Regions from separate parts of the Homo sapiens genome. Here regions 2 and 3 are each linked to region 1. Evidence: fine-mapped expression QTL. A gene starts in region 1. Each other region holds a variant in brackets. All regions are shown on one strand. Distances are from middle to middle.

Region 1 (8,177 bases):
GGAAGGGAAAACCGGCTGGTTTCTTCCTCATTCACAGCAAATTCAGTGAATAGACAGCAAATAAAATGTGAACACATGGCCAGGCATGGTGGCTCATGCCTGGAATACGAGCACATTGGGAGGCCGAGGTGGGTAGATCATGTGAGGTCAGGAGTTCGAGACCAGCCTGGCCAACATGGTGAAACCCGTCTCTACTAAAAATACAAAAATTAGGCAGGTGTGGTGGTGTGCACCTGTAATCCCAGCTACTTGGGAGGCTGAGGCAGCAGAATCGCTTGAACCTGGGAGGCAAAGGTTGCAGTGAGCCGAGATTGTGCCACTGCACTCCAGCCTGGGCAACAGAGTGAGACTGTCTCAAAATAAAACAAAAATAAAAATAAAAATAAAAATAAAATAAAATAAAACAAAATAAGAACACAGGCACACTCACACTCACTCATACACCCTCATTATCAAACTCTCAATGTTTCTATTTTTTTCTCTTAAAAAGATCTTTAGAAATGAACATTTCCATGGTAAAGAAATGAAGATCGACCATTCCCTTTGTTTTACTTTATTTTTCATATTAAATATAATTTAAAATAAATCATCTAATTAAAAGCATGAGTAGAAGGACTTCCCACCCTCCCTGCTGTTCCTCCCACTGACCTCCCACCTGGCTGGTGGAGGCCGTCTGGGGTTGTTTCCTTGTATGAAGGCAAGTTCCTGTTGGGGGATGAGATTGGGGTGATAATGTTGCTTTCTGTACTAAAAAAAAATTTCCTAATGCACATGTGTAATTTTCACAAAAAAATAAAATAATTGAAATTACTAAAGAGAACAAGCAGACGGGTTTTCACCATGGCCTGGGCATGAATACCTCTCTTGACCTTGTTCTAAGGCACATGGGGACTGCTGGGTGGAGCATGGATCTGGATAGCAGGCTGAGGTGGAGCCTCCCAGCAATCGGCTTCCAGGAGGGAATGGTGTGCAGGCCAGCACCGCCTCCTCTCCATGGACCACTCAAGGCTGAGGCTCCAGAGCAGATGCCTGTGCTATTCCTGACTATTCCTGAAGAGATTGGCACCTGCGGGGCCTGAGTGTTTCCCTGCACAGAGGAGAGCAGGGACTTTGGCGACCCTGGACGCAGCTGGGGACACTGGGCTCGGTTGAGTGCTGTATGAGAGGCCAGTCCTGGTCACAGTAGAATCTGGGGCACATGAAGCTGGGGATTAAGGCAAAGACAGCACATCCAGCCTGGCCACATTGTGGTTTCTATATAAGTTCCTGATGGGCAGGCCTGTCTCTGATGGGCCAGCAGCTGCCCCCATGCCCCGGCACCCACGCCAGTCATCCAAGGTCTCAGAAGGAAACATCTGAGACACTCCTCCAGCTTTGGAATCATGAACTCAGCTCTTCCTGAAAGTATCGTGTGTGTGTGTGTGTGTGTGTGTGTGTGTGTGTGTACCCATGTACGTGTGCATGCGTGTGTGTGCCTGTGTGTTTAGTGCTTGGGGGGTGTGTGTTTGTGGCTTATTGAAACTATGAATTTTACTGAATCAGTAGAGCCGATCATTCTTTCTGCACAAACCTGGTCCCACCTCGGTCATGCCTCTGTCTGACATCTATCAGTCAATTTATCCATCAATGGTAGAATAAAGTCAATTATCAAAGCTGGCAGTGCGGCCGGCTGCTTTCTTGAAAGTAACAATCAGTCGGGGAGCATGTCTTGCTAATTCCATCCTGAATCTGCCTTCTTCCCTCTTGGGACAGGTGCCTGCGTCCGCACCCCTTTCCTCTGCCAATGGGGAGACCACAGGCTTCCCTCCCTGCTTGCGTGGGCTGGACCCCTCCCCACCTCGGCATGGCTTGTATCAGGGGCAGGAAGGTAGCCAGGAGCATCACGCATGTGAAGCAGTAACTATTTTAGTACATCCAAGGGAGGGAGCTGCTTCCTGCTTTACACACAGGTCCAACAACATGAAGACGGGAATCTCAAGAAAAACAAAGTTATAAATCACAAATCAAGATCATAAAATAAAATCAGTATTGAAATAATGGCAGTAAATGGGTGCTTTTGATGTGGTCTGCGTTGTAAGACACAGGGAGAAAATGCCTCTGTAAAACTCTAATAAATCGCTTTGTTTAATCACTAGAATATAAATGGAATTTAAAGGGTCATCTGAGAGTCATCCTTTAAAATAACACATTAGCTTTTCTTCTATGACAGTTTGGGGGAAAGATGCCATTATTTAGAGCTTGTGTACTTCATTTATTTTTAAATTAATAGTTTTTTAGTTTTCTATCTTCAAAAATTTCCTTAAAGCATTCATCTACTTTCTCTATTTCCTTTTCCCTAATTTCAGAGAAGAGTTTGTGTCTTTATTTTCCTGTCGTGGATGCAGAGAGCTCCTGCGGGTGTTTACAAAAGGTCCCTTGGTGTCATTCTGCTTCTTGGCCCTCCATCACTCATGGAATCACAGCTGATGCCTGGGCTCACAGTTCTCCGAGAAATCACTGGTGCCAGGGAAAAGTGTTCTCTGATTGATATAGCACACTTGCTATGTTTCACAGTTCAGCCCAAGCTCTAGCTGCTATTTCTTAAGCAAATGTGTGCTGTCTTCGTGGAGGTGGCAGTGGAGAAAGGAAAATATCAGCTCTCAGTGATATCACTAACAACACCCAGGGCAACAATTACGCTGGCACGTCCTTTACTCTGGGACCTGCCTGGCCCTGAGGCCGTGTGGGCTTTGCTGGTCGGGTCCTCCCAGCCCTAAGAGGGGCAGGTCTCAGGATCCCATTTTGCAGACCGGGAAGTGGGGTCACCAGACAAGGACTGCACACTGTCCCACAACAAGGAGTTGTTGGATCCCAGTCCCAAACCCAACGTGTGTGACTTCAGAACTGGTGCTCTGAGGAGCTTCTCAGTCACCATCACTGTGCACTCCCTTAGCAGGGATGGATGTGGAAACTCACTCCTGAATTGGACAACTATTGCTGTTTTCCGTGGAGCTGCCAGAGGGATCATTGTAGAGCAACGGTCACCAGAGCACCACTCAGCTGTAAACACTCACTGCAACGAAGCTAAACCCAGACGACAGATCTGGCATGGCCTGGCCTCCGCTGCTCCCCAGCCTGGAGGACTCTGGCCATGCCTCGGGGACATTTCTAGGCTGGAGCATAGACGAGCCAGTGCACGGACCTCCAGTTCTGAGTCCTGCCCTAACACCTGGGAGGAACGTGTGAGTTGTTGATGAGCCGCGATCTGTAGCCATGCTGGAGGAGTTGGCATGAATGGGAAATCCACCTTTCTTGCAAACTCCGACATGCCACTGAGAATTCAGAGTGATAAGCTTAGCCTAAAGCTGCCTCCTCACATAAGTTCAGCCTAAATGGCATGAACCCAGGAGGCGGAGCTTGCAGTGAGCCAAGATCACGCCACTGCACTCCAGCCTGGGTGACAGAGCGAGACTCTTTCTGAAAAAAAAAAAAAAAGTCTTTCTGTACACAGTGAACTGTACCAAACTGGACGTGTAAATAGTCTGTAACCTACTCTTGTGCCAGTCATCGAGTTTTCCCTGATCAAGTAAGACAGACCCTAAGCTGGAGCCAAGTGGCTGCTTCTGGACTGCGCTCTGTCTTCCGTAAGTCACCCTACTTTTTCTGTTCATAAATCTTCTTTGGTCCCACGGCAGTGCCGGAATCTCCCTGAATCTCTTCTGGTTCGGGAGGCTGACTGATTCCCGAACCATTCTTTGCTCAGTTAAACTCTGTTAGATTTAATTTGTGTAAAGTTTTTCTTTTAACGAGAGTTAGCTTCTTCCTCCTCCCTGGCCTCGCCTGTCCTTGCTGATGCGGAAACAGGTTCCAAGAGAGGTGCCTGAGCGCGGTCAGGAAACCTCCAGACGTGGCAGAGCCACGGTGACAAGGAGATCCTGTCTCAGGCTGGGGATGTGGGACCCAGGTGTGCAGGCAAAAGAGCTGGGGAAACTGAGGCCTGCAACGGCACAGGGGGAAGCACGAGCACTGTGATCAAAGGCTCAACCCTGCGGTCCATTCCCTGCCCACTGTGGGGCCCAGAGCTGTGAGCTTGGATGCCGGTGTCATGAAGTTAAAGCACAAAGCTTCTGAGTCCCCGTCTGGAGGACAGCTGCCCCGGCATGCTGCCCAGCTGGCTCTGACAGTGTGAGGATAGACTCTCACTGACCCTGCGCTTGAGCTGGACAAGCCTGTGACTCCCTTCCAGCAACAGAATGTGGCCCCCATGCTGCGTAGTACAGAATCTTCCAGGCCTCTGTCCTGGCACCCCTGCTGCCTGAAGCACCTTCCCCGAGGAAGAAGCCACCGGTTTGGAGCGGAAGAGGCCAGCCAAGGGGCCGGGGCCTGGGAACGGTGGGTGGCTGTGCTGAAAACCATCTGAATCAATTCAAGTTGAACTTGAACTGCATTTTATTCCACTGACATCAGAATTGGATCTCCTCTGGGGTTGTGGGAAGGATTCAATATTTAGAGACATTAATTACTTCAGCACCACATTCTGCCTACTGTACGGTACACATGGGGGACAGGACTCAAATTAAACTGGTCCCTGCTCCTGGGGAAGCCACATTCAAAGAGGAGACAATTGTGAATGAAGCTGCCTGGAACATAATGGGGCCGTCTGCAGGGGAAGGCAGGACTAGCTCAACCCTAGGTAATTAAAGGTCTCTGTGAGATGGGTCTTGAGGGTTGAGTAGGAGCTTAAAAAGCAGTTTGAAGGGATGAGTCTTTCCAGGAAGCAGGAATGACCTGTGCGACCCTGAGGGGGTGCAAAGGACAGAGTGTGCTGGAGAAGGGAAGGAGTGCTTTGTCCTTCGTCCTGCCTGGTGGGGCAGGGCCTCCGGGGTACAGACCCCACCACTCGCGTGCACCAGGGGTGACAGCCAGCTCCATGCAGATGGCCTCCAAAGCGGTCGCTCCTGGGCTTAGCTTCCCTGAAATTAGAAGCAGACGCCTGTGCACGTGTATTATCAGCTTTCGAACATTGAAGGAAACAGCTCTTTTGCAATAACTGGATTCATCATGATACAGATTTTCCCTGTGACCTCTTTATTACTTTTACGCACCACCTTGTATTAAAAAAAAAAAAAAGAAAAAGTCTCAGCCTTCTACTCCCTGCAGCCTGGTTGACTCAGATTTCTTTCACTGTTTCTCCTGTACAAACAGGCAAGGGAATGAACCTCCCCTGCCACGGTTTCCAAGCATATTAAAATATGGTCACCCCTGCAGAACTCCTAATGTTCTTGTTTAATGTGTCAGAAAAGCAAATGGAATTTTATTTTGCTTTGGCACCAGTGGAGAAGAATAATCGTGTCCTCATCAGGAGGGCTGGAAGCAGTGTCCATTTGCAAGTCCTGCAGATGGGGGGTCAGGGAGGCTTTGCCTGAGGCTAAAATGCCCTCAGAATCCTCTGCCAGTTCCTGGCCCGGAGGCCTGGTGTTAGTTAGCTCTACAGCTACAGAGAGAAATCCTGGAAGATGGCTTCAGGCCCGCAGCTTCCCAGGAAAGGAGGTCAGATGACATCTCCAAAGTGGTCCTTCCTGGAAGGTTTCAGAGATGATCAACCCCTAAGCAGGGCCCGTGCCTGGTGACTCTCGGGTCCAGGGATGGCTGGCATATTCCTGGCACCGTCCCTGGGTGGGAGCAAGGGCACCATTTGGTTTTGCCTGGAAATTGGACCTTGGCTCCTTGTTCCAAACCGAATGTGGCTGAGGAGCACTCAAATAGTTTCAGGAAACACCCTTCAAATTCAGTTTGCTGGGTTCAGCAAGTCAAAATACAGGAGGATTAGTTACATTTGAATTATAGATAAACAAGGCACTTATTTTTAGTCTAAGCATGTCCTAGGCAATATTGGGGCTAAACTTATAACAAAATTTATTTGTTGTTGACCTGAAATTCATATGGGACTTAGGTACTGAAATTTACCTGGCAATCTACCTCCAGTGCAGCTGACGTTACAAAGGGACTCTGGGTCGTGGAGCTGCCCGGCGTCCTGGCTGTGGGATGGGTACAGGCCTGTAGGCATGCAATGCACGGGCCCACAAAGGGCCCATGGCAGTGCCCAGGTGATCAGGACCAGACGAGACTGTGGGGCCAAAGGGAGGCTGTCACACCTGCGGGGCCCTGGGGAGGGAGCTGTCAGAATTGGGAGGTGGCTTGGATACGGTTGGGGAGCTGGTTGTCCTGGAAAACCGGTGGGTTGGGACATTATTTCCCAGGTTAGGAGGGAGCGGGGAAGGGAACGGGCTTTGCCAAGACATTCTTTTGTCTAATTATTTGGACTGGCACAGCATTTGGGCCCGATAGCACTCAGTATATCTGTGCGCAAATACCTGGCTTGACTGCCCTGTGTCCACCTTCCACCCTGGCCCCCAGGGCTCCAGGCTGACAGTCAGACCTGACCACTTTACCTTCATGCTCAAAAGCCTGTGCTGCCTGCTCCTAATAAACTTGAAACTGGCTTGTCTTCTAAGCTGGGCCTTTGGTGGCCATGATAATTTGGCCTCCTGACAGTAGCTGCTCCAGCATCATTTTTTCCTTCCTTTTTAGAGAGCCATGATCTTACTCAGGATGGCCACACACTCATCTAGAAGAGGCCATCTCCAGGCCTATTCTGCAGTCAGATCAGTCCAGACCACTAGGTTCTGGCCAAGGCGAGGTCAGCAGAAGTATTGCGGTATTCTGGGAGGGCCCCTTCTTCCAGGATAGCACACGTGATGGTTGGTGCACACGCAGCCATCTTGGACCCTGAGGCAAATTCAGTAAGGATCCAAGCATAGTAAGAGAAGGGGCCTGAGCCCTGGAGGATTCCATTCCCCTTCTCTCTGCCCTGTCCACCCCCCGATTTGTGCAGGAGAGAGAAGTGATCTTTCACATTGGTTAGGCCATTGTTCCTTCTTTTTTTTTCTTTCCTAACTTTTCATTCTCCTCTTTTACTATTTCTTGCCTGTTACTCCTTGAAAAGGCACTGCACCATCTTGCTTTGGTCCTCCCCCTGCCTCCTGCCAGGGAGACTTCTCTCTTTTATTTTTTCTCCACCTTACAAGCATCTGCTCAGTCCCCACCCTCAGCTCTCCCATCATCCTCCCGGGTAGATTCCGCAGTGCGCTCCATCCTGCTTCCCCCAGGCAGCCTTGGTGTGGTCTGTGTGCCCCTGGGGTGGGTGCCTGTCCTCCTCTGCTAAGCTCCCAGGGAACATGAACTACGTCTCCTGCCTGATTTCGCCATCATTCTTGATCCCTCTAAAACACAGCGTTTGCCAGACTCTCATGCTGTCAAATGCTCTTTTGCCCTACGCCCTGCTCATCTCATGGGCCTGAAGCTCTACGGAGGGGCAGACGGTTTAACTTGTCATGGAAATCAAGGCTGCGCTGTGAAGGCACACCTGGCTGTTGCTGAGGATGCAAAAGAGAACCGAACACACCCTGGGCCCCCCTGTGGGGGCCGGGGGAGAAACGTCAGGGCCAAGGGCTGTGCCAGGGGCTGGGACTCTAGGCTGAGGCACCTGAGGCAGGCCCTGAAGGTCGGCTCCTCCTCGCCTGAGCAGCTGGAGCCACCAAGCGGCACATTTTCCTTCAGGGGAAATTTGCCAATGTGTTTTGAATGACCGTCCAAAATGTGCGCCCAGAAGCCAGTTGACATAATGAAAACGCTCTTTTGTTGGAAGTCATTTTTCCATGCAGGTATGCATATAAAATCGAATGTGTACTTGAGATGGAAAAACAGATGGTTTAACTGTCTCTAATATTGTAGAGGGGTCACCTATTACCATCATTTCAGCCAAAATTTCCATCATAATGGCGTGCCCCCGGAATCAGGGGGCCGTGGCACCTCCACATCGCCCGTGTGTCTGCATGATCTTCCTCCAGCAGCAGCGGGAGCACACACCCTGTGCCGGGGGCTTCCTGCTGGTGTGGATTAAACGGCTCTCAAGGGTCCATGCACTGGTGTTGTTTTGTCAAGATGTGGCTTTTATTTTTAAAGATGCAGTCTCACCCTGGGTTCTTAGTGTGAGGGGGCGAGCTGGTGCCCTCCCGGGGCCGAGCCAGTCTGCAGCCCCCAGCTGTCTCTCTAGGGACCTGAGATCCATCTGGGGGTGTCCTATTCTGAGCAGCGTGCGAGCTTCTCCCTGGCAGCACATCCTCTGGCTCTGCAGC
Region 2 (8,177 bases), 27 kb after region 1:
CTGTTTTTGTGGACGGGGGTCTGAGAGATTTGCCCAGTGTCGCAGGGCGTCCCAGGCTCTCTCCTTACCTGCAGTCAGCAGGATGGACAAGCAGGGGCTCCACACGAGGCCAGGGGCTGCGAGGTGGCCACGGCAGGCAGAGCATGAGAAGGAGGCAGAAGAGGAGGAGGAGGCCTTGGGGCTCCAGCCTGGGGCAGCAGCTGTGGAGGAGGCAGGCAGGGGAGGGAAGATGGAGGTGGGGCAGCATTCCCAGCCTCTGTTGTCTCTCACGTGGGGGGTGTCTTGGCCTCCTGATGGGATGGTGGGTCACTGGCGGACAGGAGAGGGGTACAGGCTGTGGGCCAGTCACATTCACATTCAAGTTCTTTACCAGGGCAGAACCAGATGGAGGAACAAGGGGCTGCTGACCGTGTGGGGGTCTCAATGAGCATTTTACATGTGTGTCCAACATTTACCCACTGGGTACTAGGAACAACCACTAACCTAATAACAAACGTAGACTTTTTCACTTTTTGTTCAAAGTTGGGGATTTTAAAAAATGTCCACAGCCAAGCGTGCCACCCTGCCCACCGCTCCGCTCCTCTGTGATGTCACCCTATTTCCACGGCCCCCAGCGTGGGTATCATCAGCCCCTCTCTGATGGAGATGTCTATGAGCCTCTGTGGAAACTTGCTTGTATCTAAATGCTGTGTCTTCTTGCCTAGTTTTCCTATCAGCAAATCGTCTCTCACTTTGGTGTAAATTAACTGTCCTCCTTCAGTTTTCTTTTCTGGTTTTCTAGACCAAGCAGCATCTTAGGAGACACATTAATGGTTTTATATTGAAGTAGAGTAGGTCACTTTCTCCCAGTAGAATCATGAGGCCCTACAAAGCTCCCCAAATATCCATGTTTTCCCCACCATCCCCAGTTTCCAGGGAGGGGCACATGGCTGATTTTCCTGAGTGAAAGGTGAGCGAAGCAGTGTGGGGCCCAAGATCACTGTGACCCGGTGCCTCACTCCCTCCTTCTTCCATTCCCGAGCTGGGCTGGAAGTTAAGGGCTGAGATGGGGGAGCTGCAAACGGAAGAGGGTGGGTTCCCCCATCACCACCCAGAGGAACCTGTGCCAGAGAGGCATGTGGCTGCCCTTGGGGCTGGAGTGTTGGTGGTGCCAGTCCCATTTCTTGGGATCTCTGAGGAAGAAGAGCAGTGGGACAAGTGGTTTTGCATTTCCACCTCTGGGTGCTGTCCACATCATACTTATTGTAAAAGGTCAGAGTGGAAGCCTGGGGCAGTTCCCAGCTTGTCTCTGATCAGTCACTGCTCTTATGATGTAGGGCACCATTTAACACAGGGTAACAAAGCCTCCGTTTATCAGTCCAAAGGCAGGGAGTGCTTGGCTGGCAGGGTGACTCTGCTACCTCATTAAATGGCTTCAAACTCTGAGCTCAGGATAGCTGCTCTAGCTCCTGCCATCACATCTGCATCCCAGCTAGCTGGAAGGAAGAATGGGCCAAAGAGAGTGCATGCCCGTTACTTTGAAGAACATTTCCCAGAAATGGGGCCCATTCCTTGTGCCTAGGTCCCATGGGACAGACCTAATCACACAGCCACACCACGCTGCAAGAAAGTCCAGAAAAGCTTGCCTCTATCTGGGCAGAGCCATGTGCTCAGTTGCACTCGAGGGTATCTCAGAGTTTAAGAGGAAGTGAGTGACTGGAGGTTGGCAGAGAGCTGGCAGCCAAGCCTGGGCTTCTCCTCCTGGTGGGTCTGAGGCCAGCTGGCATGAGGTCTGGTCGAGAACTGCCATCCTGACCCAGAAGGCAGGAGGTGAGGCTGAAGACTTGGTGGAATTTACTGGAAAGAGGTGTTTCCAGAGTTCACTGGTCTGTGTTTTTCTCAACATGGGCACTGCTTCCTTCAGCACAGCAGGTAACCTGCTGGGAGGAACTGGAGCCAGGAGCAGCTTGGTCACTTTCTGGTCGTCCATGTCACACTTGTCACGGATAAAGTCTGCAGGTTTCAAAGTGTGTGGTTCCCCTCACTGTATCCCAGGAGAGCTACATGCTGGGGGTGGAGGTCTGCAGCAAACCTCCAACCACACAGACGCTGGTTGCGAGTGTTCTGACCACAGCACGGGCAAGCAGGGGTCACTCGGAACTCATTTTGCTAGATGGTGTTGGATAATTCCTGTTCCCTTTTTTCCCAGCTGTTCAATGGCATGCTTTGTTTTGGATAGAATCGGACTCCCTCCCCAGCAGAGAGCGGGAGGCAGGCATTGTGATCCCTGTGCACTACAGTAGCTGGTGTTCTAAAGATGCCCTGCGTGGCATGGCCTCATATTCTGGAGCCAAACAGACTTCTGGGGGGATGGTGTCTCCGTTTCCCCAACCCCAGGGGCCCAGCTGGGAGGAGACAGCAGGCAAGGGTGTCCCCTGCTGATCTTTCCACAAGACCTGCACTCAGTCCCCACATCAATGGGCACTGCCCACCCAGACAGCACCTACTCCTGTGGGCAGCACCCAGAACCGGTGCTCACGATGGGGAAGTCAGGACTTTGGAGAAGCGGGAAACTGGAGCCCGAGGGCAGGGTGCTCAGGAGAGACCCATCCAGACAGCAATGCTCAAGGCCAAGTGAGACCAACGACCTGGAATCCAGGGAGAAAACAGTGCCAGGTACTGACCACACATGGGACGAGGGTGCTGACCAGAGGGATGAGGGCACTGACCACAAACAGGGACGAGGAAACTGACCACACACAGGGTGAGGGTGCTGACCACACACAGGACGAGGGCACTGAGCATGTACACAGGATCAGGTATCATAGGAGGGAGTGAAGAACTCCCAGCAAAATCCAGGAAGGAGCACGGCAGAGAGACCTGGGTGTGGACGGAGAGACCCGGGTGTGGACAGAGCACTGCAGAGAGACCCAGGTGTGGACAGAGAGACCCGGGTGTGGACAGAGAGACCCGGGTGTGGACAGAGACCTGGGTGTGGACATGTTCTTCTGTCATGGGGAGGAAGAGAAGGGAGAGCAAGAAGGCAGAGGAGAGGAAACAGGAGGGAGCGAGGGAGGGCGAGAGGGAGAACACCCCTCTGTAGTAAGAGATGCATCTCGGGCAAGCTGCGTCCTTCCTCTGCTGGAGGCCCCCATTGCTCTACTGTGCTGGGTGGTGTCGGCAGGGTGGCAGATAGAGGGGTCTCCTGGGCCAGCCCATGTGTCCCAGGAGTGAGGTCCACTCCCGCTGGGCCAGCCCATGTGTCCCAGGAGTGAGGTCCACCCCCGCTGGGCCAGCCCATGTGTCCCAGGAGTGAGGTCCACCCCCGCTGGGCCAGCCCATGTGTCCCAGGAGTGAGGTCCACTCCTGCTGGCGACATGAGCAGTGCTTTCTCTAGAGGGTATGGGGAGGCAGAGGAAGCCCCTGCTCTTCCAAGCAGCAAGGAAGGGTGATAGCCTGCACCCTTCAGGCCTTCACCATGGCTGCACTCTCTTCTGAGTGTAAGAAGCTTCTACTGTAACAGACCCTGGCAAGCAGGAGCTGCGATGGGGCAGCCCAGACCCAAGGCACAGGGAGCTGAGCCCGGGGCAGGCCAGGGCTGGGACCCTGCAGGGGCCGATGTAGGGCTGTAGTCATTACAGGTGCTCGGTGGCCTCCCTACGAGGGCAGAGCCCATCCTCAGGAACGGTCACCACCGGCCTGGCCTCCGCTTCTTCCCTGGGCAGTGTCTCCCTCACACCATCTCTGAGCCTCAGCCCTGTCTGTTCAGTGAGGGGCTGAACCGCTGCTCCCAGAGGCCCCTCTGCCTGGGCAGCGTCCGGCCTCAGGCCCTGACTGCAGGACGTTTGCAGGACGATGCCTCCTGCCTCCCTCCGGGGACAATCTCTCACATCCTCCCTGTTCCTTTCCATGTGGCCTCTGGCCGCCTCGCATCTGAACTGCTGAAGTCCTGTTTCTCTGGGCCTCATCCTCTCCTCCATCAAAATGAGGAACCGTGGACTGCAGGAGCATTGAGGAAGCCACGTGGAGTCCCCGCTCTGTGTTGAGCCCCGTAGGGTGCCCTTCCTGTGGGCGGCCATTCTGGGCGTGGCGCCCCCTGTCTGAAATCAGCAGCACACCAGCTCCCTGTGCTCCGTGTGACAAGCTGCCAGGGACAAAGGTAGCACCCGGACAAGCACCCAGGCTTTTCTTCCTCATTCTAAACCCCATTGGAGCCGCAATCTCCAGGTATAATAGCAGCTTGTTAACAAATCCTGTTTGTGTTGCATTTGCTGACAGAGAGACTCCCCTGGGACCACAGCAGTAGGCACGGCATTCCTGTGACAGAAATCAATGCCACAGATCGAGGGATGGAGCCACCGGCT[C/T]CCCAGGCTGAGTCCCCTTCCGGTAACACGGCCACACTCCTTCCTCCCTCCAAGAAGATCCCAGGGAGGGCGATCCCGCCTGGATGCGTTCCTCACTCCCTTTCAGGTGGCCCCAGACGCTGGGCATTGGGAGGTGGCCACATGGGGACATGGACATGAAGGCTGGGTAAGTGTGGGGACCAGGCGAGCTGGCTGCTGGACACCCACCCACCCTGTGAGCTGCACCAGACCCTACTCTCTGTGCTCTGGACCCCAGGAAGCAGTCAGGATTGGGGGGGTCCCACTCACAGGCCCCGGCGCCTTCCACCTGGGCAGCTGCCATGTGCACCCTCAGGCTTCAGACTCCTGGCCACGGGGGCGGTGGTGTGGACCCCAGGCCGTGTGTGCAGATGCAGCAAGGTGACATCAGCCATACATTCACTGCGTCACTCCTCACCCAGCTCCTTCTCAGAGCCTCACTCGGAACAGCACATCTCCCATCTCAGCTGCCCTGGCCACTTCTGTGTAGGAGGCAGGAGGGATACTCCCACCACCCCGACCCTTACAGATAACAGGCTCAGAAAGGCACCTGACCCCACAGCCCTTCAGTTGGGTTTGAACCTGGGTTGCTTGGTTTCAAAGCACAGGGGTTTGTCCTGCCCAGTCACACCCCTCAAAGTGTGGATGTGGGAAACACCGCTGAGGAGCCTGGACATCCAGGAGGGCTCAGGAGACCCTTCCTGACTGCACCCCGGACAGGCCCACGACAGGCAGATGGGACACAGGTCAGGATGTGGCAGGCACACGGCCTGGCTTCTAGACACTTCTCAGACCTGGGAGAGGAGAGAGGGACAGGTGGTGTGGGCGTGCTGGAGGCGGGAAGGGGATAAGAGTGTTGGTTATCACGGGCAATGTGGACACACGGCCAGGACAGGGGTCCACAGTATTTCAGGAACCTCCCACAAGACGAAACTTCTAGACAGACTTCCCTCCCTGTGAGATACCTTAGGCTGTAGTGGAGAGGTCGCTGAAAGAATCGATATTTCTAGAAATTAGCTTTGGGATCAGTTTGCGAAGCTGCATCTATGCTGACAAGTGAATGAAGCCCGTGGGCAGGGAATACACTGAGGCCTTAGGCCTGCAGAAGAGCACAGGTGCACCTGCGCCACATGGGCCAGAATCAACCCAGGTGAATTCCAGCCCATGCCATTGATGCCAACCATGGACGAGGAATCCAGCTGGGGCTGAAGTTCCGCTACGCTGTCAGTTCCACTGGGGATGTGTGTTGCTCCTTCAGCCTCTGCCAGACACACAGGCCCGGTTCCAGCACCCGGGTGTTTGAGGGTGAGTGTGTGGGAGTGAGGCTCAGGAGGAACTGTGGGATCCAAAGTCAGTGAAAACGGTGAGGGTGAGGGAGGAGGGAGGATGGTGGAGGGCAGGGGTGAGTGAAGGGCAGAAAGGGGCGATGGGGTGAAGGGCAGAGAGGGGTGATGGGGTGAAGGGCAGTGGGCAATGGGGTGGAGGGCAGAGTGGGGATGGGGCGGAGGGCAGGGGGTGATGGGTCGAGGACAGAGGGGGGATGGGGTCGAGGGCGGGGGGGATGGGGTGGAGAGCAGAGGGCATGAGGCAGTGGGCAGGGGGTGGAGGGCATGTGGGGACAGGGCAGGGGTGGGAGGTGATGGGGTGGAGGGCAAGGGGGGACATGGCAGGAGCAGAGGGGGTCGGGGCAGAGCGAGGGGGAATGGGACACCATTATTGGAGACAGTGGCAGATATAAGCACTGGAGAAAAGCAGGTAAAGGATGTGCGGGGCAGGGGATTGGAGGGGACGCTTGAGCAGACACTGAAATAATCCGTTATGGGAAGCGTTATGGGAGAATGGGAGCCAGGAACTGAAATTGCAGGGGGTGAGCGTGGTGGGAACTCTGAGGGGCGAAGGGTGAGGCCGGCATCCTGGTGTTCTCACACAGGGCAACCTCTCATTTCATTTCCGTTGTAGCCAGTGTGTGAGTCAGCCAGGGAGCCTCAGCCTTTCCCACTGGCTTCAAAAAGATGTGGAGGCTGATGGGGAGGAGGAAGGTTCCCCAGAGCAGGAGGCCATCTGATGTAATGAACATGCCTTCCTAAGACGCTGCCTGGGCCGCAGCCAAGTGTGGTCGCTCTCTGAGCAATCGATGCTGCCACAAAAGGTCCTGGCAGCAGCGGCACGACCCCTGCACCCCGCCTGCTGCATCCAGGACAGCGCCGGCCTCCCACGGCGGCTCCCGGGAGAAGAGGAGACGCCACTTTGGCTGCTGTCCCGGGGAGAGGGGGGACAGTCCTTCGACTTCATGCAGGGGCTTGTCAACCCCAAAGCTTCCTCCGCCGCCATCTGGGTCTGACGCTCTCCGCTGGAAGGTGTTCAGGAGCTGGCACCCCACGTCCACCAGCGCTGGCTTCAAATCAAACAATAAACAGCATTTAAAAAAAATTAGTCCCACAGGTGAAGCCAGAGTCCCCTGCAGATGCCTGTTCCTTCACACTCCGCGCCTTCCACTGCCTTCCAGTGGTTGCACTCTCAGGCCTGTGGACGCACCTCGGCCAGAGCAAACCTGTAGCCTCTTCCCCAGCACGAAAGGCAGAAGGTGAAAATCACCAGGTCCCTGTACCATCAGGAAGGACCTGAACAGCCTCTGTCACCGTGTATAACAAGTCTCACTGACTCCTTCTCCGGAGCAGGGCTCCCGGGTCTGAGGCAAGGCTTCAGGATGCTTTCCCGGCTCAGCCGTGGCCCTCCATTACCTGCCCTGCCCGGCTTCTGCCCCACAGGGCTGCCTGGGGTCCTGGCCACTTTGGGTGAGGAGAGGATGGCTCCAGCCTCCTGACCTTGGAGGCTCCACAGACAGAAGACGCCGCCCCGGGACATGAGGGCCCTGCCTGGCTTTGACCCTCCTCTGATAACAGGGGACAGCCGATGCCCTGCTGGGCCCACGGGGAACAGAAGCCAGTCTGGGCTGGGCCATCCCCTGCAAGTGGTCCACTCCCCCCACCGGCTGATGGTGGAGTCTAGGCTGGCCTGGTGACATGTGGGCCTCCAGAGGTGACAGAAGGGATATTCAAACTTCCAAGGCCCCAGAGGCCTCCACCCCTGCCCAAGCACAGTTCAAACCTTCAAGCTCTTGGGGGTACTTTTGTGATGGCTGGGTTGGGGCTGGTGCTTCATCTTCTCTTCCAGTCAGTGGAGTGAAACAGCAGGTCCATCTTGCATGTCTGTGTCTGCAGACGGATGGTCCAGGGCCATCCCTACACCCTCCTGTGCTGGGCCCGCAGGGAAGCCAGTTCTACCAGCAGTCTGCAGGTAACAGGGTCCCAGGCCAGGCGCTCCCCTTGACCCCCTGTGGGTTTGTTCCTGCCACCCGCTCTGCCCCTCCCTGGGTGCCCCCCACCCCCAGATCTCCTGCAAGATGGACGTCAGGGTCCTGGGAGAAAACAGTTCTGTGCTGGGGCCGCTTTGACTCCCAAGGACCCCGTGTCCAGAAGAACGGCAGCTTGTAACCCCATCCCTGTAATGAGAATGAAAATTAATTCAATTTGTATCATTTCCTATAATGCACCATCCTCGGCCTGAGATGGAAATTGTGAGATGTTATTTTCTACTGGAGGCGCGTGGTTTTTTACAGGCAGTGTTAGAATTTTAATCCTTCATGTTCTGAAAAGCATTAGAATCAGTTAGCCTTCCACAGTGCACCGTCTCCCCTCGCGATGAAGCCTGTTCCTTCTGAGGGGCTCCCGTTGGAGGACAGCAAAGGGCCCCACAGTGGAAGGGGTCTTGGCTCTCAGAGCAGCACCAGGTGGCCCAGACAGGACCCAGACATCG
Region 3 (8,177 bases), 29 kb before region 1:
CCAAACTAGAAGAATTGGTTTTAGTATTTAAAGATCAATGGCACCTGGAAATTAACAAAATCAATTTATAGACATATATGTATATTTCTGAATATTGTTATAGGGATTATAATAGGACTATCAATAACAACTTTGAAACATAAAATCTATTAGGGTACAATTTTGTGGAGGACTGGCATAGAAATATGAGTGTAAGGTAATAAAAAGGGCTTTAGTTTCAGTTTCAACCATAAAACAGGAACTTACTCAGTTCTTTAAAACATAGATGACACCTGGTATTGATGGCTGTATATTTAGATTCCATGGCAAATATATCAGAACATCTGCAAAGCTATGTCCGTCCTCCCCAAAGGCCATATCTGCACAGCGGTAAACACTGCCCGGAGAGGAAACTCACACACAGCTCCACGGAGGAGGCATCAACTGCTTCCTCTACCTTTAAGGAGGGCAGTTTCTCAAGCTCTATAAGAAGCCTTTAAATGGGTGTGACGTGACCTAGAAATTTCATTTCTAGGATTTTGTCCTAAAAAATATATAAAGATATATGCAAAGAATTAGCTATAAATATGTCCATCTCTGCCTTATTTGAAATAGTAAAAACTTGCAAGCAAACAACATTTCAAACACTTGACCATCCTTTAAATATATGAAGGGGCTCTCGATAACATAAATCCACTGTAGTCATTGAGGGTCATTTCTGCAATAATGGACACAAGATTGTCAATTAAAAAAAGGGATAATTTCTTCAACGTGGTAATGGTGACAGAAAAGTCACATTTAGAATGGGGAGCGAGGCTAGGTGCAGTGGCTCATGCCTGTAATCCCAGCACTCTGGGAGGCCGTGGCAGGTGCATCACCTGAGGTCAGGAGTTCAAGGCCAACCTGGTCAACATGGTGAAACACTGTCTTTACTAAAAAAATATAAAAATTAGCCAGGCATGGTGGAGGGTGCCTATAGTCCCAGCTACTCAGGAGGCCGAGGCAGGACAATCGCTTGAACCCGGGAGGTGGATGTTGCAGTGAGCCAAGATCGCGCCACTGCACTCCAGCCTGGGCGACAGAGCGAGACTACATCTGAAAGAAAAAATTAAAAATTAAAAATTAGAATGGAGAGAGATGGTGCATTTGCAGGAGAGCCATGTGGTGGAGAATTATGCAGCCACAAAGAGGAATGAAGCCTGACCCAGCTGTGATGTGGTTGAACCTCAAGACACGGTGCGGAGGGGAAGAGGCCAGTACCAAAGGTAGCAAGCTGTGTTGCCCCATTCATACGAAAGATCCAGAACAGATCGATCCACAGGTAGGCACAGATCGGCGGCTGCCTATGCATGGGGTGTTGGCGCTGGATGGAAATGTTTCAGAAACAGAGATAGACGCCAAGGTCATGTGCCGAGAGCTGCTAAACGCTGCACTTTAACATGATTTATTTTAGGTTTGCCTGCAGCACCTGTAATCTGTCTCCTCGTGGATGGTGAGACCCCCGGTGTCGCCCCTGTGAGCTCTGGGAGCTGTGCGGGACCCTGCCCACTAGATGGAGGTTTGCCTGACTGTTAATTGACTTGCTCATGGTCAGCCCCCAGGTCAGGGCCAGGCCAGCACCACCACCCATCCGGCTCCTTCCAGGACTCGCTGGGCGGGCTCTGGCTTAGTTCTCCTACTTGCATTGGTCAAAGCCCCTAGGAGACAGTCGGCCTCTTGCCAGCCCATCCTCTGCCCAGCACAGCGTGTTCTCAAGGTTGGAGCAGGCTGCAGGTGCCACGCCGAGGCATCCCAACGGGGATTCCAGGCTCCTCCAGCCTGCCTGTTGTCCTGATCGCTCCCTGCAGCCGCTGCTGCCTGCCAGCGTGGGGGGACCTGTGGGGCAAGAGTGGGGGGCCCTGCTTATGAAGCCCGATCCCATCCAGCGTCAGCCGCGTTCTCGGTGCCCGTGACGGTCTGAAGCTGACGCCTGATTCTGCTTTCTGTCTTGGAGTGCACAGTGGCATTCACGGTCGTCGCCACAGCCATCAGGTCTGTGGAGCCACGCGCAGGTGCGCGCTCCTGGGAGTGGGCTCCAAACCTCAGGTGGGAGAGCAGAGGCTGCAGGGCAGGTAATGTGCTCCCCTCTGTGACTGGGGCAGAAGCCTGCACACCCACCCTGCCTGCGGGCACTGAGCACTCACCCAGACCCGTGGCCGTGCTCTCCACGTTTGTCATCGAGGCCCAGCTCCCCCTGCCTGTCTAGTCTCAAACCAGAGCCCTAGCCTGGTCCCAGATCGTGGGGTGCTGCCCTGGGGTCCCCCATCAACACAGGGTGATGACACCAGTGCCAAGCACCCCTGAGCAATCTCCCCCGAGCAATCTGCTCTATTGCTCTTTCAATGAATGACTCAGAGCCCTGTTCCAGATGCCCAGGCACCTGCCAGCTTCATTGCTGGAGTGAAAGGAGGGGTGATGGGGCTGCCATAAAAGATGACACTGGGACCATGTTAAGGTCACCTCCCGTTTCTTCTTCAGGTCTCCATGACTGAACTCACAGGGCCGCCCTAGGACCACTGCAGCCGGGAGTGCAGAGTGTGGGGGTGGGAGGTGCCTCTGCTTTGAGGTCTGGGGCGGCAGGTGGGAAGGGCGGGGGAAGGCGCCGTTTTGTCGGAGTCTCCTGCTGGGTTGGGGGTCGGTAATTCCTGGGGTTTTGGGAGGAAATCCTGTTTCTGGAGGAAAATGGCAGCTCCTGTGGGGGAAGCTTGTCTGAGCCTTGGGGCAGCCTGGGACACACGTGTGCGTGCACATATGTACATGCATGTGCACACAGGCACACACTGGCATGCACATGTCCCCACACATGTGGACACACATGCACACTCACAAGTGTCCTCACACGCATCCACATGCACACACGTCATAGCACACATGTACATATATGTCCTCACACACATGCACACACGTGTCCTCTCACACACACACTCACATGTGTCCTTACACGCACCTGCACGCACACACATGTCCTCTCACACATGCACACACGTGTCCTCTCACAAATGCACTCACACGTCCTTACACACACGCACATGCATGCACACACGTGTCCTCACACAAGTACACACGTGTCCTCACACATGCACACACACGTGTCCTCACACATTCACACACGTGTCCTCTCACACACTCACTCACGTGTCCTTACTCACATGTGTCCTCACATACATGCCTACACATACAGAAGTGTCCTCAGACACATGCACACACGTGTCCTCAGACACTCACATGTGTCCTCACACACATGCACACACGTGTCCACACACATGCACACACGTCCTCATGCACACACATGCACACTCCCACGTGTCCTCACACACATGCACACGTGTCCTCCCATGCACACACGTGCGCACACACAGGCTACGAGGTGGGGCTGTCCCCAGGGCTGTGCCTTTTCTTGGCCATCCTGTCCCACCGCGTCCTGGCCACACTCCCAGCAAGGACTTACCTGACTCAGCTGTTTCTGGACTTCCTACCTGTGCCTCCGTCCTGTCTGCCATGACTGTACTCCAGGATCACAGCTGATTAGTCATGGATTACTAATATCTGCTAGAGCTAGCCACTCCCTCCTTCCCCTCATTTCTCCTATTTTTGAATCATTTTTCCATTTGAAGTTAAAATCCCTTGACTAATCCCAGAGAAAGCAACACATTAGTATTTTGATGGCGATTGCATTCAATTTGCAAATTAACTTGGAAGAATAGACATCACTGTCATACTAACTTTTCCTGACCATGTGAATTTCCATTTTTGTTTTTTTCATGAATGTTGTGAAGTTGTCCTCACACAGGTCTCGCCCATTTCTTGTTAAATTTATTCATAGGTATTTTATCTCTTTTGTTGCTGTCGTAAACGGGGCCTTGGCTTCCATTGTGTCTTCTAGCTGGTGGTTGTGCATTATCGCATTTTGTCTCGTAGCCTGCGTTCCTCTGCGTATGCCTCATTCGGGCTTCAAGATTGGATTCCTTTAAAAGACAAAGACTGTAGCTTCTTTCTCTTCAAATCCTCCTAGTGTCTGGCTGAAAGTCTTGCCCTTAGTATGGGAAAATGGCTTTTGGAAGTGGATTAGGAAATGAGAGCACGGATCTCGGACAACGGGCTCAGATCTGCAGGCTCAGTTTCATAATCCGTCAGCTAAGGTTGCAGCACCTGTACCCACAGCACATATGCTGCTCGCAGATTCGGATACACGTGTGGGTGTGCGCTGTGTGGACGGCGGTGGGGTCCATGTACCTCAGGGGCGGTGCTGCCCCTGGAAATCTCGGGGCTGGCAGGGACTGTCACTACGAGCTGAGACCCAGGTGTAGACTGGTTCCCAGGTGTGGTCAGAGTCAGCATCCACCAGACTGGAGCGCCCTGGGGTGAAGGCAAGTCCCCAAAGTCAATGTGATGCCCACGTGCACGTTCTGCCTCTGGAGACAGAAGAGTCTGAGAGGTGGGAGGGGGCCTTGCCAGACCCCTGCCTGGGTCCCTGGCTAACTATGAGGGTTTTGCTTTGGGGAGTGGCTGAGACTCACACACCTCTGAGCTGGGAGAAGGAGGTGGGAATGAGAAAAGGGAAAGAGGGGGCC[G/A]GAAGGAGGCGCAAAACGTCCCTGATGCAGCGCCGTCCCAGGATGCCTGCAGCACAGGCACGGGGCTCTTGCAGGCTCCTGCGTCCCCAGGGTGGAGCATATGCAGCCTCCGTCACCTAAGACAGCAAACACCACGAGAGTGGCAGCCTCACAGTCACCTTGTGTCATCTCCTAGCACAGCAGGTGCACTCCTGGTCTCTGGGCAGCCTGAGAGGCAGGTCTTGCTGGGTTTACACTAGAGATGAGGAGACAGGAGAGAAACAAAGGAGTTACCCCATGGTCAGGCTCTGGTGGAGGTGTGTTCCTCCTGGTACTTCCCCTCACGCACCTGCATGACCCCCAGCAGCATCTGTGGCAAGCAGGCCCTGTGCTTGTCCCTGCCAGGCCCCTTCCCCACAGTGTTGGCCCCTCCCGGGCCCTCCGCTGGCCTCAGCTGCCAGCTGCCCCTGAGAATGAGCTCCCTGAGGGCAGGGCTTGGCTCCCTGTACCGTGTACTCCCTTCACCCTAACTGTGGAGGGCACAGAGCAGGCGCTGGGCACATGTGCATTCAGTGAATGAGTGGATGGATGGAAGGGGCTGCCTACCTCCCTGGCTTCTCTTCTCGGACAGGTTGCAAGGACTTGGGCCATAGCACTGGTCCGCATCCAAGATGTGAGGTCCCACTCAACACTGTCTGTCCATCTCTCCCCCTGCCAGTCCCCGCCCTCGGCCACCAAGCTCAGCCACCAAGCTCAGCCACTAAGCTCAGCCCTGCCATTTCTGAAGGGGGTGCTCAGAGCCAGAGCTGTGAGGGGCAGCTGTCCACTCCGTGGGGGCACATGGGAGCTACCTTGTCCAGGGCTTTGTGCTGGAAGATCTGAGCAGAGCTGGGAGAGTAGGCTGGACACGTGAAGAACAGGTCAAGGGTGGCCTTAGGCACTGGGGGAGCTTCGTTGTTCTCTGTCACCAGCATAATCTCTCTGAGGGCTCCCACCTTCCACATAGCGGGGGGCGATTTTAGTCATTCATTGCTGGTATTGCAGTACTTCCTTCCAAGCTATCTCTCTTGGGCGATGCAACTTCTTTTGCATAAATTCCTGGACTTTTAGTTTTTTTTCCCTAATTCCCTGCTCCTCACATGGTGGAGGCCAGGTGCCTGGGGATAACCCACGATGACTGCCCTGTGCAGATGCTGGGGTCTTAGGGTCTCAGGGCCTCAGCCATCACCAGCCTTGGCCTTGGATCAGCTCCAGCAGATGGGCCTCGGCAGGCAGGACCCCTCCTTTTGGCTGTTTGGCAGTGCTCGCATCTGGGGACCGTCACTAACCTGCCCCCACCCATGCTGCTGCCCTGAGTGCCCACCCCCAATCCCAGGTTCTCCAAGGGTTCCCCATGGCCCCTGGTTAGGTTTCCCACAGGGTTCCCCACGGCCCCTCCCATGTACTAGAGGGTGTCTGGGCATCCTGGCCATGCCTGGGCAGAAAGCATTGGCAGTACCCCTCCCACATCTACATCTAGAAACTTCTCCGCTGAAGCAGAGCTGCCCCTCCCACCCATGCACAGAGGACGCAGGACGCCCCTGAGACATGGCAGCCAGGGGCATCCCAGGACCTGAGACGTGGAGCTTCTCATACCCTCTCAGGGGTCTTCCCAGAGCCCATACCCCCACATGGGGCCCAAGAGCTGGGAGAAGAGAGAGTCTGGCCTCCACTCCTCATCTACCTTGGCGCCCTCCTCCCTCTACACCCCACTGGGTAGCATTTCCTCTTTTTCCCCTTCACCATCTAGAAGGGGTTTCCCTGTGAAATAACCTTGGCCTCTGGGCTTCAGCCAGGGACCGGGCCTAGGTGCTGACCGGGCAGTCAGGGACCCGCGGAATCGGCCCATCTCCCTGGAAGAAACAGAGCAGGCTCTGAGCAGGGAAATGGGGCCTGGCTCCCCCAGGCTGGACTGTGTTGAGTGAATGAAGAAATGCAGCCGTGTGGGTGAGTGAGTGAGTCAGTGAGTGAGTGAGTGGCAAGGGGACAAAGCCAGGTCTAGGGGAGTGACACATTTGTCCTCCGGCCCCCAAGACTGAATCTCCATGTGCTCCTCCCGGAGCCCAGTGCTCCCTGCAGAGCTGCAGGGCCTGTGAGTGGAGATGGATGGGACAGATCCCTCCTGCCCTGGCCTCCCCGTGGTCTCCTAGACCCATGAGCCTCGCCTCCCTTTGGCACTTGTATTAGTCCCTTTCATACTGCTATAAAGAACCGCCCAAGACTGAATAATTTATAAAGGAAAGAGGTTTAATGAACCCACAGTTCAGCAAGGCTGGGGAGGCCTCAGGAAACTTCCAATCATGGTGGAAGGCGAGGGGGAAGCAAGCACCTTCTTCACAAGGATGCAGGAAGGAGAAGTGCTAAGTGAAGGGGGAAGAGCCCCTTACGAAACCATCAGATCTCATGAGAACTCACTCACTATCATGAGAACAGCATGGGGGAAACCGTCCCTAGGATTCAGTTCCCTCCACCTGGTCTCTCCCTTGACACGTGGAGATTACGGGGATTGCAGTTCAATATGAGATTTGGGTGAGATAGGAAACCAACCATATCAGAGACTTGGCTGCCCAAGTCTCTGGCTAAAGTCACGGGAACTCCTTGGGCTTCAGGGGTGCATGGATGGGAGGACGACTCCTGCTTTCAGTGAACTCATCTGAGGAAGCGGCTGGCCAGCAGGATCTAGAGTTGCTTGGACAGGAGTGGGAGAGGAAGGGGTATTTTTAAATATGAGGGATGCGTTGAAGGACCACAAACCCACACTCCAGGAACACCAGGGCCCCTCAACTTCCTTCTTAGCAATGCTCGAATTCCAGCCAGGCTGTTCCAAGTCCCAGGACCCCCTGAGTGGCCTCTATCCCTCCCGCTGTATCCTGGGGGCTCTGGTCTTCAGCTTCTTGGGCTGTGCTAGGGGAGGATCTGCAGATGGAGCTGGGGGATGGTTCCAGGGAGGAAAGGGGATCCTCTGGCCTTCCACAGTGAGGGTTTGTCTTATTCCTCAAAGCTCCCTCAAAGGATGGTTCAAGTCACTTGCCTGGCAGACAAGAGGGATTCAGTCCCAGGTGGGGGATAGGGTGTGGCTTTTCCATCTCTCTCTCTCCATGCTGTTCCTGCGCCCGTCTCCACGTGAGACCCCACATCACATTCTCACTCCCGCCACCACACACAGAAGGGGCTGTGTTGCTGGAGCACCTCCCCTAACTTGTACCTGCATCAGAGCTGCCCTGCGGGGGCTGGCATGGGGTGCTCCACGCTGCAGGATGGCACCTTTCATTCCACAGACCTCGCTCCTGGTTCCAGCTCCATCCACTCCTCTGAACAGAACCCAAGCTTCCGCTAATGGTGCCTGTTTAGTGCTTACCAGAGGATTATGCTAAAATACGTTTTTTTTTTCTTAAATAGAAGTAGATAATCTCCAAACCCGTGTTTTCTTGCCTTTCCCTGTCTTGTCTTTGCACAGGAGGGTCTTGAGGAAAATGCCCTGGTGCGGGCTGCGCCCTCTGCTGTCACCTGCGGGCATGGGGGTGGCTTCCAACGGGCTTGGGAGCTGGGCCCAGGTGGCACCGTGTGGGC

Which allele goes with the higher level. Positions count from the first base shown, and alleles are read on the strand shown. Sizes are in standard deviations (SD) of each study's normalised expression. Not every link is listed here.
As copies of A replace G in region 3, the expression in amygdala of the gene that starts at base 3,546 in region 1 goes up (moderate effect, 0.51 SD a copy in GTEx).

The links. PIP is the estimated chance that this variant, and not a neighbour inherited with it, causes the effect.
Region 2: its variant is fine-mapped to the expression of LINC01310 in tibial nerve (GTEx, PIP above 0.99). The same link has a PIP of 0.9 or more in cerebellar hemisphere.
Region 3: its variant is fine-mapped to the expression of LINC01310 in amygdala (GTEx, PIP above 0.99). The same link has a PIP of 0.9 or more in cerebral cortex and prefrontal cortex.

What each region holds. Positions count from the first base shown.
Region 1 is chr22:48,863,225-48,871,401 of GRCh38, forward strand. It overlaps LINC01310 (long intergenic non-protein coding RNA 1310), which reads left to right and starts at 3,546. Exons shown (of 7, transcript NR_038944.1): 1 at 3,546-3,623. RefSeq lists enhancers at 5,567-6,068, 6,069-6,568.
Region 2 is chr22:48,890,478-48,898,654 of GRCh38, forward strand. It overlaps LINC01310 (long intergenic non-protein coding RNA 1310), which reads left to right. Exons shown (of 7, transcript NR_038944.1): 4 at 2,189-2,655; 5 at 3,927-4,138; 6 at 4,258-5,666; 7 at 6,321-7,909. Among named protein-coding and RNA genes, the nearest start is that of LINC01310, 28 kb to the left of the region's middle. The variant C/T (reference allele first, on the strand shown) is at 4,344.
Region 3 is chr22:48,834,288-48,842,464 of GRCh38, forward strand. No RefSeq gene overlaps it. Among named protein-coding and RNA genes, the nearest start is that of LINC01310, 28 kb to the right of the region's middle. RefSeq lists an enhancer at 2,782-3,309. The variant G/A (reference allele first, on the strand shown) is at 4,590.